Linked DNA regions of Homo sapiens. The protein of the gene in region 3 purifies or fractionates together with the protein of the main gene of each other region. This does not show direct contact. Each region holds a gene or a part of one and is shown on either strand. Other genes may lie near its edges. The genes, in order: TIPRL, CTSB and PTPN18.

Evidence for each region.
Region 1: the proteins of PTPN18 (region 3) and TIPRL purify together in Homo sapiens (affinity purification with mass spectrometry; one large-scale study listed by BioGRID and IntAct). This does not show direct contact.
Region 2: the proteins of PTPN18 (region 3) and CTSB purify together in Homo sapiens (affinity purification with mass spectrometry, with the first as the bait; one large-scale study listed by BioGRID). This does not show direct contact.

The regions. Positions count from the first base shown.
Region 1 is NC_000001.11:168,181,870-168,185,524, reverse strand, and holds part of TIPRL (TIP41-like protein), read right to left. Parts: intron 1,624-3,655; coding exon 1,444-1,623; intron 747-1,443; coding exon 647-746; intron 1-646. UniProt on the Homo sapiens protein: May be a allosteric regulator of serine/threonine-protein phosphatase 2A (PP2A). Isoform 1 inhibits catalytic activity of the PP2A(D) core complex in vitro. The PP2A(C):TIPRL complex does not show phosphatase activity.
Region 2 is NC_000008.11:11,850,975-11,854,629, forward strand, and holds part of CTSB (cathepsin B isoform 1 preproprotein), read right to left. Parts: intron 2,506-3,655; 5' UTR 2,481-2,505; coding exon 2,355-2,480; intron 1,722-2,354; coding exon 1,636-1,721; intron 7-1,635; coding exon 1-6. UniProt on the Homo sapiens protein: Thiol protease which is believed to participate in intracellular degradation and turnover of proteins. Cleaves matrix extracellular phosphoglycoprotein MEPE. Involved in the solubilization of cross-linked TG/thyroglobulin in the thyroid follicle lumen.
Region 3 is NC_000002.12:130,362,540-130,366,194, reverse strand, and holds part of PTPN18 (tyrosine-protein phosphatase non-receptor type 18), read right to left. Parts: intron 1-3,655. UniProt on the Homo sapiens protein: Differentially dephosphorylate autophosphorylated tyrosine kinases which are known to be overexpressed in tumor tissues.

The DNA.
Region 1 (3,655 bases), on a different chromosome or scaffold from region 3:
CTGGGATTACAGGCGTGAGCCACTGCGCCTGGCCCCAATCTCTTCTCAAGCAGGGCTTACACACACAGGACTTAATACTAATATAGAGCTTTAGAATTTATTGAGAGCTTCCCATAAATTATTTCACATCAAAACTCTGCTTTGAGGTAGATATTTCTGTTTACCCAATTTATTGATAAAACTGAGACTCAAATTAAGTAACTTCCTAAAGTCATTTCAGGTTCATACTCAGGGCAGACAGGGCATAAACCTACTTTGTCTAACCAGAAGTTCTTTTTGCTCATATATTTGTTCATCTATAAACTTGTGAGCTACAAGCTAGCAGGTTCTGTCTAAATCATGTAATACATTACCAAGGCCCGAAACACATTTTAATGTTTCTTGATAGTGATAATGATAACAACAAGGCCGTCTGCCGTTGCCACCAACTACACTTTTAAAAATAAATTTTTCCACTAATGCCGTCTTTTATTTTCTACTGATAAGTCAACAAGCAAAACCCCCTCACATTAGGTTCTGAGGAATGCCACAACAGAAAACAAGGACGATAAAAATAGTTGCAAAAAATAACCCGTTACTAGAAAGTTCTAATGCTCAGACTGTCCAAGACAATCAATGACTCATGAAAGAAAAAAGTAAGATTTACCTTTAACTTAAGAGATTCTCCAAGTAAGGTTCCCTTATAATCTGTTGTATAGGTCCAATCATATGGTTTAATAACCTCTTTGGAGTGTTCACCCTCCGTCCTCAAATACCAAAATGAGAAGGATCAGATTCAGTGATGCAGAATAGAGATTATCTGTATTTATATATCACATCAAATTATATTCTATAATAACATATCCTATTAAATATATACACTTGTTATAATTCACCAGTACAAGGTTTTTCTTACAGTTTTTCTGCATTTATTATTTAACTTGTCATGTACTGATGTAGTCTTTTCAATTAGTCTGTATACAGCCTGAGGACATGGTTTAAAGGTTTATACTTATTTGTATCATCTAAGGTACTTAGTACATATTAGGCACAAAGTAAATAATTGCTGATTTGACTATCAAAGAAAAACATGTTGTCTTAATTTCAATGCTTCTCAAATAGGGTATTTATTAAGCATATCATAAGTAAACATTTTTTCTTAAAAACAGGAACATTAAGTATAGCCTACTGCCTCTTCAGTAAGGAACACTGAAAAATCGAAAACGTACATAGCTCAGCTCAGTTGTAATTCACTTTAACAAGTATTCAAGCAGTGGGGTAATTAACTTCCATTTTTATGTCTGAGAAAAACGAATTCTAGAATGATACAACTCTCAAGTTTAATAATACCAGCCCTTCATTCTAACAACACACACGTATCATTACTGAATATTTTTTCAAGTCTTTTCTCTTTTGTTTAACCTAATTACCTTTTTTGTTTAACCTAATTGACCGGATTCTCACCTGCTTTCTTGCCACTCTTCAGCACAGGCCACTTTAAGCATTCCTTGGTAGTTGTTTACACATCTTAACGCATCTGTAGCATTGAACTCAATTCCAAAGCCAGACCCATGCTGGATTCTTAAAACGTTGTCTCCAAACATCATTTCAGGGAGAGATGGCATATGTAATTCATCGGCTAATCTATACGTAACCAAAAGTCGGGTGAGATAATTTTATATCGCTGTTGGCATTTTTGTTTCTTTTCCATCCCAACAGAATTCTTCCTACTTGCTGAATGAGTTACACAGCACATGATTTAATCAATATGATATATTTGCAAGGTCTATAAAATGCTTTCATCATCCATTCTTTCATCATCATATGGCACTGTACTAAGTAGTGGGCTAAATAAGATAAATATACAAATACGTAATATAATAGCTTATTATACTACTATAATATATAGCACACAGATATTACTATAATATATATCATGAGGGTATGAAGAAAAGATAGCAAAGCAATTAAAGATACTGTCTCTTGTAGGAAAATAATTTTTCCATTAAAATTCTCAATTGTTAAAAGTTTCAAAACGTGGTGATGAAAAAAGCAAAAGCACCTGACACTGATGAGGGAACTCAGCACTTGCCTACACAGACTTTCAGAAGGATTGTGTCAATTTACATTTCACCCTGGGGCAACAATCAAGCAAAAAAAAAAAAAAATCACAGGAATTTAACATAATTTACACACTTATGACCCAAAGTATCAGTTTTAGAATACCTGTACTAAAGAATAATTCCAAGTACAGAAAAATATTATACACATTAATACTTATAATGGCTTTACTTATAATCATGAAAAAGAAATACTCTGAATGTTTCATTATAAAGCAACAAATGATTATGCAAACCAAAGTATATCCATATGATGAAATATTATGGAACCATTACAAATGTTTAAAGAGAGACTATAATAATATGAAAAAATGCTTATGATAAAATAGTAAGAAAAAAACTGGACACACATTGTATATTTATTACATCTAAACGTGTATTTCTGTGTGCACATATCAGTGATCTAACTTTGAGGTGCAGGTCTTCAGGACTGCACAATGTTAACAATGGTCTTCAGGACTAACAATGTTAACTTTCATCATAATTTTAAGTAAAATTTATTCTTTGTTATTAGGAGATAGAAAATATTAAATACTTAAAAGATTAGATACAATAAACTGTAATTGGAATATATATTCCATAAGATTCCATAAAATAAGTTTTAACTTGAATAATGCATACCAAATGTGAAATAATATGTGAGTCTGTGGATTCTAACCAATATATCTGGAAAAATGTGGCAGTCCTATAAAATATTCCACTCATATATGTAAAAGAATCACTGTTACTAATTTACAGTCCTTCAGTGTTCTAAATATAGAGTTTCTTAAACATAGGCCAAAATGCCCTCTTTTTTTTTTGAGACGGAGTCTCGCTCTGTTGCCCAGGTTGGAGTGCAATGGCACGATCTTGGCTCACTGCAACTTCCGCCTCCCAGATTCAAGCAATCCTCCTGTTTCAGCCTTCCTAGGAGCTGGGATTACAGGCACGTGCCACCATGCCCGGCTAATTTTTGTATTTTTAGTAGAAACAGGGTTTCACCATGTTGGCCAGGCTGGTCTCGAACTCCTGACCTCAGGTGATCCACCTGCCTCGGTCTCCCAAAATGCTGGGATTACAGGCGTGAGTCACCGCGCCCGGCCTGAAAATGCCCTATTTCTAACATCATCAAGCTTCCCACTTAAAAACAGGTATAACTAGTTACAAGGAGAGAAGACAGGAAGCTCCTGTGGTTTTAAGGTGCCTTAAATATTCATTAGAAGAGCTTCTTTAATCCAATATTTTACCCAACCAATTTATTTAGCACCTTAGTGGTTTTTACAATCTATGATAATGCATCACAGAAAAATTTGGGATTGGTGAGGGTAAGTCTTCCTTTTGTCATATAAAAAAAGGCATTTTTTTTTTTTTGGCGGAGGGTGGGGGACGGAGTCTTACTCTGTCATCCAGGCTGGAGCACAGTGGCACGATCTCAGCGTACTGCAACCTCTACCTCCCAAGTTCAAGTGATTCTCGTGCCTCAGCCTTCAGAGTAGCTGGGATTACAGGCCTGCACCACCACCCCCAGATAATTTTTTTTGTATTTCTAGTAGAGGCGGGGTTACACCATGTTGTCC
Region 2 (3,655 bases), on a different chromosome or scaffold from region 3:
ATAACTCTGGATAAAGGAAGGTCTTCATTACAAGCTCTGATCCCACAACTCCCTCCCCAATCCCTGCAAAGGCCACTTTGGCTGGGCCACACTCCCCTAACAAGGAAATGAGCACAAGACATGCCGAAGAAGGCTGCAGACAGGTGTCCTTGGTAATTTCATAAAACAAAAGGAAATTCTGTTGCTCAATGCACCTTTTGATTTTTTTTTTGGGTGGGACGGGAGGGTGGGAGTGGACAGAATTTCACTGTGTCATCCAGGCTGGAGTGCAGTGGCGAGATCTCTGCCCACTGCAACCTCTGCCTCCTGAGTTCAATCGATTCTCGTGCCTCAGCCTCCTGAGTAGCTGGGATTACAGGCATGCACCACCACACCCGGCTAATTTTTGTATTTTTAGTAAAGACAGGGTTTCACCATGTTGGCCAGGCTGGTCTTAAACTCCTGGCTTCAAATGATCTGCCTGCCTTGGCCTCCCAAAGTGCTGGGATTACAGGCATGATCCACCACACCTGGCCTGACTTGCGATATTGTACGCTTCTTTCTAGGCTTATGTAATGGATTTTTTAAGATGAATTTATCCACAAATTATAAACTCATTTTTAAATAAGTTTATTCAGTCCAGATAGTGTTTCTTGCCCTGCTCTCCTGCCTCAACCTCTGCCCAGGATCCTCTCATCATTTCTCATATCATCCCCATTGTGCAGAAGGCAGTGTCGTGCAACTTAACTACCCCATCCTCACGTGGGAAGTGGCATCATCTCAGCTCACCGCAACCTCTGCCTCCCGGGTTCATGCGATTCTCTAGCCTCAGCCTCCCGAGTAGCTGGGATTACAGGCGCCCGCCACCACGCCTGGCAAAGTTTTTTATTTTTAGTAGAGACGGGGTTTCATCATGTTGGTCAGACTGGTCTCGAACTCCTGACCTCAGGTGATCCGCTTGCCTTGGCATCCCAAAGTGCTGGGATTACAGGCGTGAGCCACCATACTTGGCCTCATCTGGCTTTTCTTAGATTTCCCTTAAATTACTCAAGATTGAGTCTGCCCACATAGTGGGGACCCAGACCTTGTCTGTCACATCTGCGGCTGAGACACCTTGGAGAAGCACAATAGAAAACACTGGGGGTGGCTCATGCCGGTAATCCCAGCACTCTGGGATGCCGAGTTGGGCAGATGACTTGCTGAGGCCAAGAGTTCGAGACGAGCCTGGCCAGTATGGCGAAACCCAGTCTCTACTAAAAATACAAATATTAGCCGTGCACGGTGGTGCAAGCCTGTGGCCCCAGCTACTCAGGAGGCTGTGGCATGAGAATCGCTTGAACCCGGGAGACAGAGTTTGCAGTGAGCCAAGATCGTGCCACTGCACTCCAGCCTGGGTGACAGAGTGAGACTCTCTCAAAAACCAAAAAAAAGCACCAGCATCTTCTCTACTAATAACTTGAGAAGGAAAAAATAAAATAAAAAGAGAAAGTAATATAAAAATGAAAAGAAACAAGTACTGTACCTCAAGCGGTGTCGGCAGCCCTGGGCAGCATGAGCCCTGCGGACGCCAGAGAGGCCTTCACTCTCCCACTTCCCACTGCCCCAAACCAACGCCTGCCACTCACATTACAGCGGTGCAGAGGAGCAGGCACTCACCTCTGGGGTGGCTTGGGCCCACCCAGGAAGGTACCACATAGCCTCTTCAAGTAGCTCATGTCCACGTTGTAGAAGTTGTGCCCGGCCTGGAAGAGAGTCACCCACTGACTGAAGGGTCTCCCGGGATGGCGGTGGATGGGCACGCTGCCCACACACGAAGCCCAACCCAGGGAAAACCAGAGACCCTACCCAATTCAAGGGCCCAAGGGTTGGGGGGCACTGGGGAACAGCCCAGAGTGACACACGGGCAGAGTGGGTGTCTCCCCTGATCTGCTCCCATTTGCTGACAATCAGAGACCCTCTCCAGCCCTCAACATGGCTCACTCCTCATTCTTGGTTCTCAGTCCGAGGGTCAGGGCTGGGCAGAGACAAAGGGAATCAGGGGCGGGACTGATAAACTGCCACTGTGCCACGGCGGGCGTCACAGGGGCTAGCTGGTTTTGAACACTTCCGAAGCTCACTTACTCCCCCACACACCTCCACGTGCACACAACCATATATTCATACACATGCACACACACTCATGCACACACGTGGGGTATGGGACAAAGGAGGGAGGCGTGGTCCAGAGCCGACATGACTCAGGGTCAGGGCCATTTTTCAACAGTCCAGGACAATGTTCTGTGGGCCACAGTGAGGGCTGGCTTCCCATTCCTGGAGTCAGTGTGCACAGACCGACCTGGGAGGGGACATACATAGGACGCAGCCCCACAGCCTACCTGCCACGTGGTATTCCGTTTGTTGACATAGTTGACCAGCTCATCCGACAGGGGATGGAAAGAGGGCCTGCTCCGGGCATTGGCCAACACCAGCAGGCAGCAGAGGGAGGCCCAGAGCTGCCACATGTTGGAAGCCGGATCCTAGATCCACCTGGAGAGGACAGAGGGCATCAGGACACCTCTCTGTTATGTGGGTCGAGGGCTCACACACACAGGGGCACCGTCTCGGGCATCAGTGGGGACCCCCATGCTCGTCCTGGCCCAGGCGGAGAACTCTTAAGGAGCTGAGGTGTCTATGGGATCCCCGCCCCCCTGCCCGAAGCACGCCATGACCTCGTGTGGGTCCCCGGGGGCCAGGCGGCCAGAGCCCAGAGAGAGAGCCAAGGGGCTGTGCTGGACGAGACCGAGTCCAGGGCCTTCGCTGCTATTTTTAAACGGCCTTTGCATGGATTTGTAGAACAGCTTGAGACACTTTCCCAAGTGAGTGATATGAAACAGTTAAGAGCCTGTCTGTGTGATTACACCCTAAGTGGAGGACCCAGGGGACAGGGAAATGTAAGAAAAGTTACAATCCAGGAGTCCTAGTTTCGACAGGACACAGACAAACAAGCTCGGTGTGGGCTGGTGGAGGTTGAGGCTGAGAGGTGGGGCTGGGCTGGCCATCCACCCACTCCCGGGGCCTCTCTGGTTTTTCCAGTCAGCCAAGGGCTCTGCTTCCGGCTGCGGAGATGAGGCTTCTGAGAAGGAAAACTCTCACCTCGATGCCCCAGCCGTTTGATCTTGCACTGGCTCATGAGTCACAAGCCAGTGCTTTCCAGCTTGAACTCTGAGTCACCCTCCTAAGTGAGCAGCTCAACAAAAGCAATACATGTCTCCTGGGCGCCTGCATCCAGGGCTGGGGAGAGCCGCGGCGCGGGGAGCTGGGTGAGGCAGGGGTTCCTGTCAGTCACTCCAGGGGCTCCCACGGGTGGGTGAGGTGTTCTACCTCCCACAGGTCACAGGTCGTCATGAAAGTCACAGGACTGCGGTGTCAGTGCTTAACAAACTGCCTGGCACCTAGGGGTTCTATCTGAAGAACAATTTAAACTTCATTGTTGCTTAAGCAACAATTCATCTAGGAGAATAAATATATGAGGACAGCAAGATGGCTCTGGAAAAAAGCTTTTTTTTTTTTTTTGAGACAGGGTCTTGGTCTGTGGGCCATGTCACCCAGTCTGGGGTACAGTGGCACAATCTTGGCTCACTGCAGCCTCCACCTCCCAGGTTCTTAGCCTCCCAAGTAGCTGGGATTACAGGTGTGC
Region 3 (3,655 bases):
TTAACAGTTCAGGCATAGTGAGCCACTGTTATCAGAAACCTAGGTTTCTAGAGGCCACCCAAGAGTCAACCTTACAGGAAGGCCTTTCTAAGCATAAACATTTATGCTTGCCATGTTTAACTCTTCTGCACAGCAGGGGACCTACCCAAAATAGCCAAAACAATCTTGGAAAAAAGAACAAATTTGGAAGACTCATACTTCCTGATTTCAGAACTTCTACAAAGGTATAATAATCAAAACTATGTTACACTGGCACAAGGATAAACACATCAATCAGCTTAATAAAATTGAGAGTTCAGAAATAAACCCTTATATTTATGGCCAATTAATTTTCAACAAAGGGGCCAAGACGGTTCAATGGGCAAAGCATAGTCTTTTCAACAAATGGTGCTGGAACAACTGGATAGTCACATGCAAAAGAGTGAATGTGGACCCCTATCTCACATCACATACAAAAGTTCATTCAAAGTAAATCTGAGACCTAACTGTAAGCAAGAAAACTATAAAACACTTAGAAGGAAGAACAGGAGTAAGTCTTTATGACCTCTGATTAGACAATGACTTCTCAGATACACCAAAAGCACAGCAACACAATAGATTGGAATTAAAGTTTCACAAAATGTTTGTGCTTCAAAACACACCATCAAGAAAGTGGAATGACAACCCACAGAATGGGAAAGACATTTTAAATCATGTACTGATAAGGGACTTATATACAGAATAACGCTTACAACTCAATAATAAAAAGACAACCCCAAATAGCCCAATTTTAAAATGAATAAATGACATGAATAGACATTTGGCCAGAGAAGATATACAAATGGACGAATAAGCACATGAAAACCAAAACCACAATGAGGTACCACTTCCCACTCATTAGGATGGCATATATGTCATTGTCATATGCCACATAATGATGTTTTGGTTAACAACAGACCACATATACAATGGTGGTGCCATAGATTATAATGGAGCATATGTAGAAACCTGATACATGGCACTTGATATTGACACTGCATATTAAGTTGGGGAAATGATTGATACTCAGTAATGGTGCTGGGACATTTGGTTTTCCATATGAAAAATATATAAATAAAAAATGTATATACTATCTATGTTTGTGTAAGTATACTCTATGATGTTTACACAATGACAAGATAGTCTTAACAATGCAGACCATATCCCTGTCATTAAACTACACATGTCCCTCCCTCCCTCTCTCTCTCTCTGCTGATGGGAACGTAAAATGGTACAGCCACTGTGGAAAACAAAATGTTGAACATAGCGTTATCATATGATCCAGCAATTCCATGCTAGGTGTATACCCAGGGAACTGAAAACAGGGATTCAAACAGATACTAGTATACCAATTTTTTGTTGTTGTTGTTGTTGTTGTTTTGAGACGGAGTCTCGCTCTGTCGCCCAGGCTGGAGTGCGGTGGTGCGATCTCGGCTCACTGCAAGCTCCGCCTCATGGGTTCACACCATTCTCTTGCCTCAGCCTCCCGAGTAGCTGGGACTACAGGCGGCTGCCACCACGCCTGGCTAATTTTTTGTATTTTTAGTAGAGGTGGGATTTCATCGTGTTAGCCAGGCTGGTCTCGATCTCCTGACCTCGTGATCTGCCTGCTTCGGCCTCCCAAAGTGCTGGGATTACAGGCGTGAGCCACTGTGTCCAGCCTGTATACCAATGTTTGTAGCCGCCTTATTTACAATAGTCAAAAGGTACAAACAACCCAGATGTCCAACAGGCGAATGGATAAACAAAATGTGATATATACATACAATGAAATATTATTTGGCCTTGAAAACAGTGAAATTCTGATACACACTGCAACATGGATGAACCTTGAAAAAAGGACAAGTATTGTATATTAGTGTATTCCTGATTCCACTTGCATGAGGTACCTAGAATAGGCAAATTCATAGGGACAGAAAGGAGAATAGAGGTTACCTGGAAATGGGGGAATGGGGAGTTATTGTTTAATGAATACAGAATTTCTGTTTGGGATGATGAACATGTTCTGAAAATAGACAGTAGGAATGGTTAATCCATTGTGAATGTACTTAATTCAATTGAATTGTACACTTGAAATGGTTTAAATGGCAAAATTATTTTTAACATTCCTCACAGCACCTATAAACTGGCAAATTTTATGTTATGTATATTTTACCACATAATTTAAAGAAAGACACAATGGCATACCACTTCACAACCCCTAGGATGGCTATAATTAAAAAAAAAAAAAAGACAGTAACAAGCATCAGGGAGAAGAAATGGGGACCCTCAAACATTGCCGTGGAAATGTAAAATGATGCTGCCACTGTGGAAAACAGTTTGGCACTTCCTCAAAATGTTAAAAATAGAGTTTCCATATAGCCCAGCAATTCCCAGCAATACCCAAGAGACATGAAAACCCACATCTACACAGAGACTTGTATATCAGTGTTGATAGCAGCACTGTTCATAATAGCCAAAAAGTAGAAAGAACCCAATTTCTGTCAACCAATAAGTAAAATGTGGTAGATCCATTCAATGGAATAGTATTCAGCAAACAAAACAAAACAAAACAAAAATGCTAAGCAAAAAAAGGCTACATATTATGTGATTCAATTATATGAAATGTCCAAAGTAAGCAAATGTATAAAGGCAAAAATAGATTAGGGATTGTCTGGGGCTGTAGAGGTTGCTGGGAAATGGGGAGTGACTGCTAATGGATATAGGATTTCTTTTCTTTTTCTTTTTTTTTGAGAGACAGTCTTGCTCTGTGGCCAGGCTGCAGTGTAGTGGCACAATCTCAGCTCACTGCAACCTCCAACTCCCTGGTTCAAGCTATTCTTCTGCCTCAGCCTCCCGAGTTGCTGGGATTACAGGCACATGCCACCATGCCCAGCTAATGTTTGTATTTTTAGTAGAGACGGGGTTTCACTATGTTGGCCAGGATGGTCTTGATCTCCTGACCTCGTGATCCACCAGTCTCAGCCTCCCAAAGTGCTGGGATTACAGGCATGAGCCACCATGTCTGGCCTGGATTTTTTTATGGAATGATGAAAATGTTCAAAAACTTATTGTGGTAGGCCGGGCACGGTGGCTCATGCCTGTAATCCCAGCACTTTGGGAGGCTGAGGTGGGCGGATCACGAGGTCAGGAGATTGAGACCATCCTGGCTAACACGGTGAAACCCCGTCTCTACTAAAAATACAAAAAATTAGCCGGGCGTGGTGGCAGGCGCCTGTAGTCCTAGCTACTCGGGAGGCTGAGGCAGGAGAATGGCGTGGACCCGGGAGGCGGAGGTTGCAGCGAGCTGAGATCGCGCCATTGCACTCCAGCCTGGAGGACAGAGCGAGGCTCCGTCTCAAAAACAAAAACAAAAACAAAAACAAAAATCTTACTGTGGTAATAGTTGCATAGCTCAGGAATATAGAAAAATGATGGAACTGTACACTTTAAATGACTGAATTGTATATCAATAAAGCTGTTTAAAAAGATATTCTAAAACAACTATAATAGCAGTGTACTGTGGAGTATATTTTATATATAGAACTATAATATATAGTAACAATAGCACAAAGCATGGAAAGGGGTAATCGAAATATACTACAGTAAAGTTCTGACATTTTACATGAAATGTAGAATATTATTTGACTATAGACTA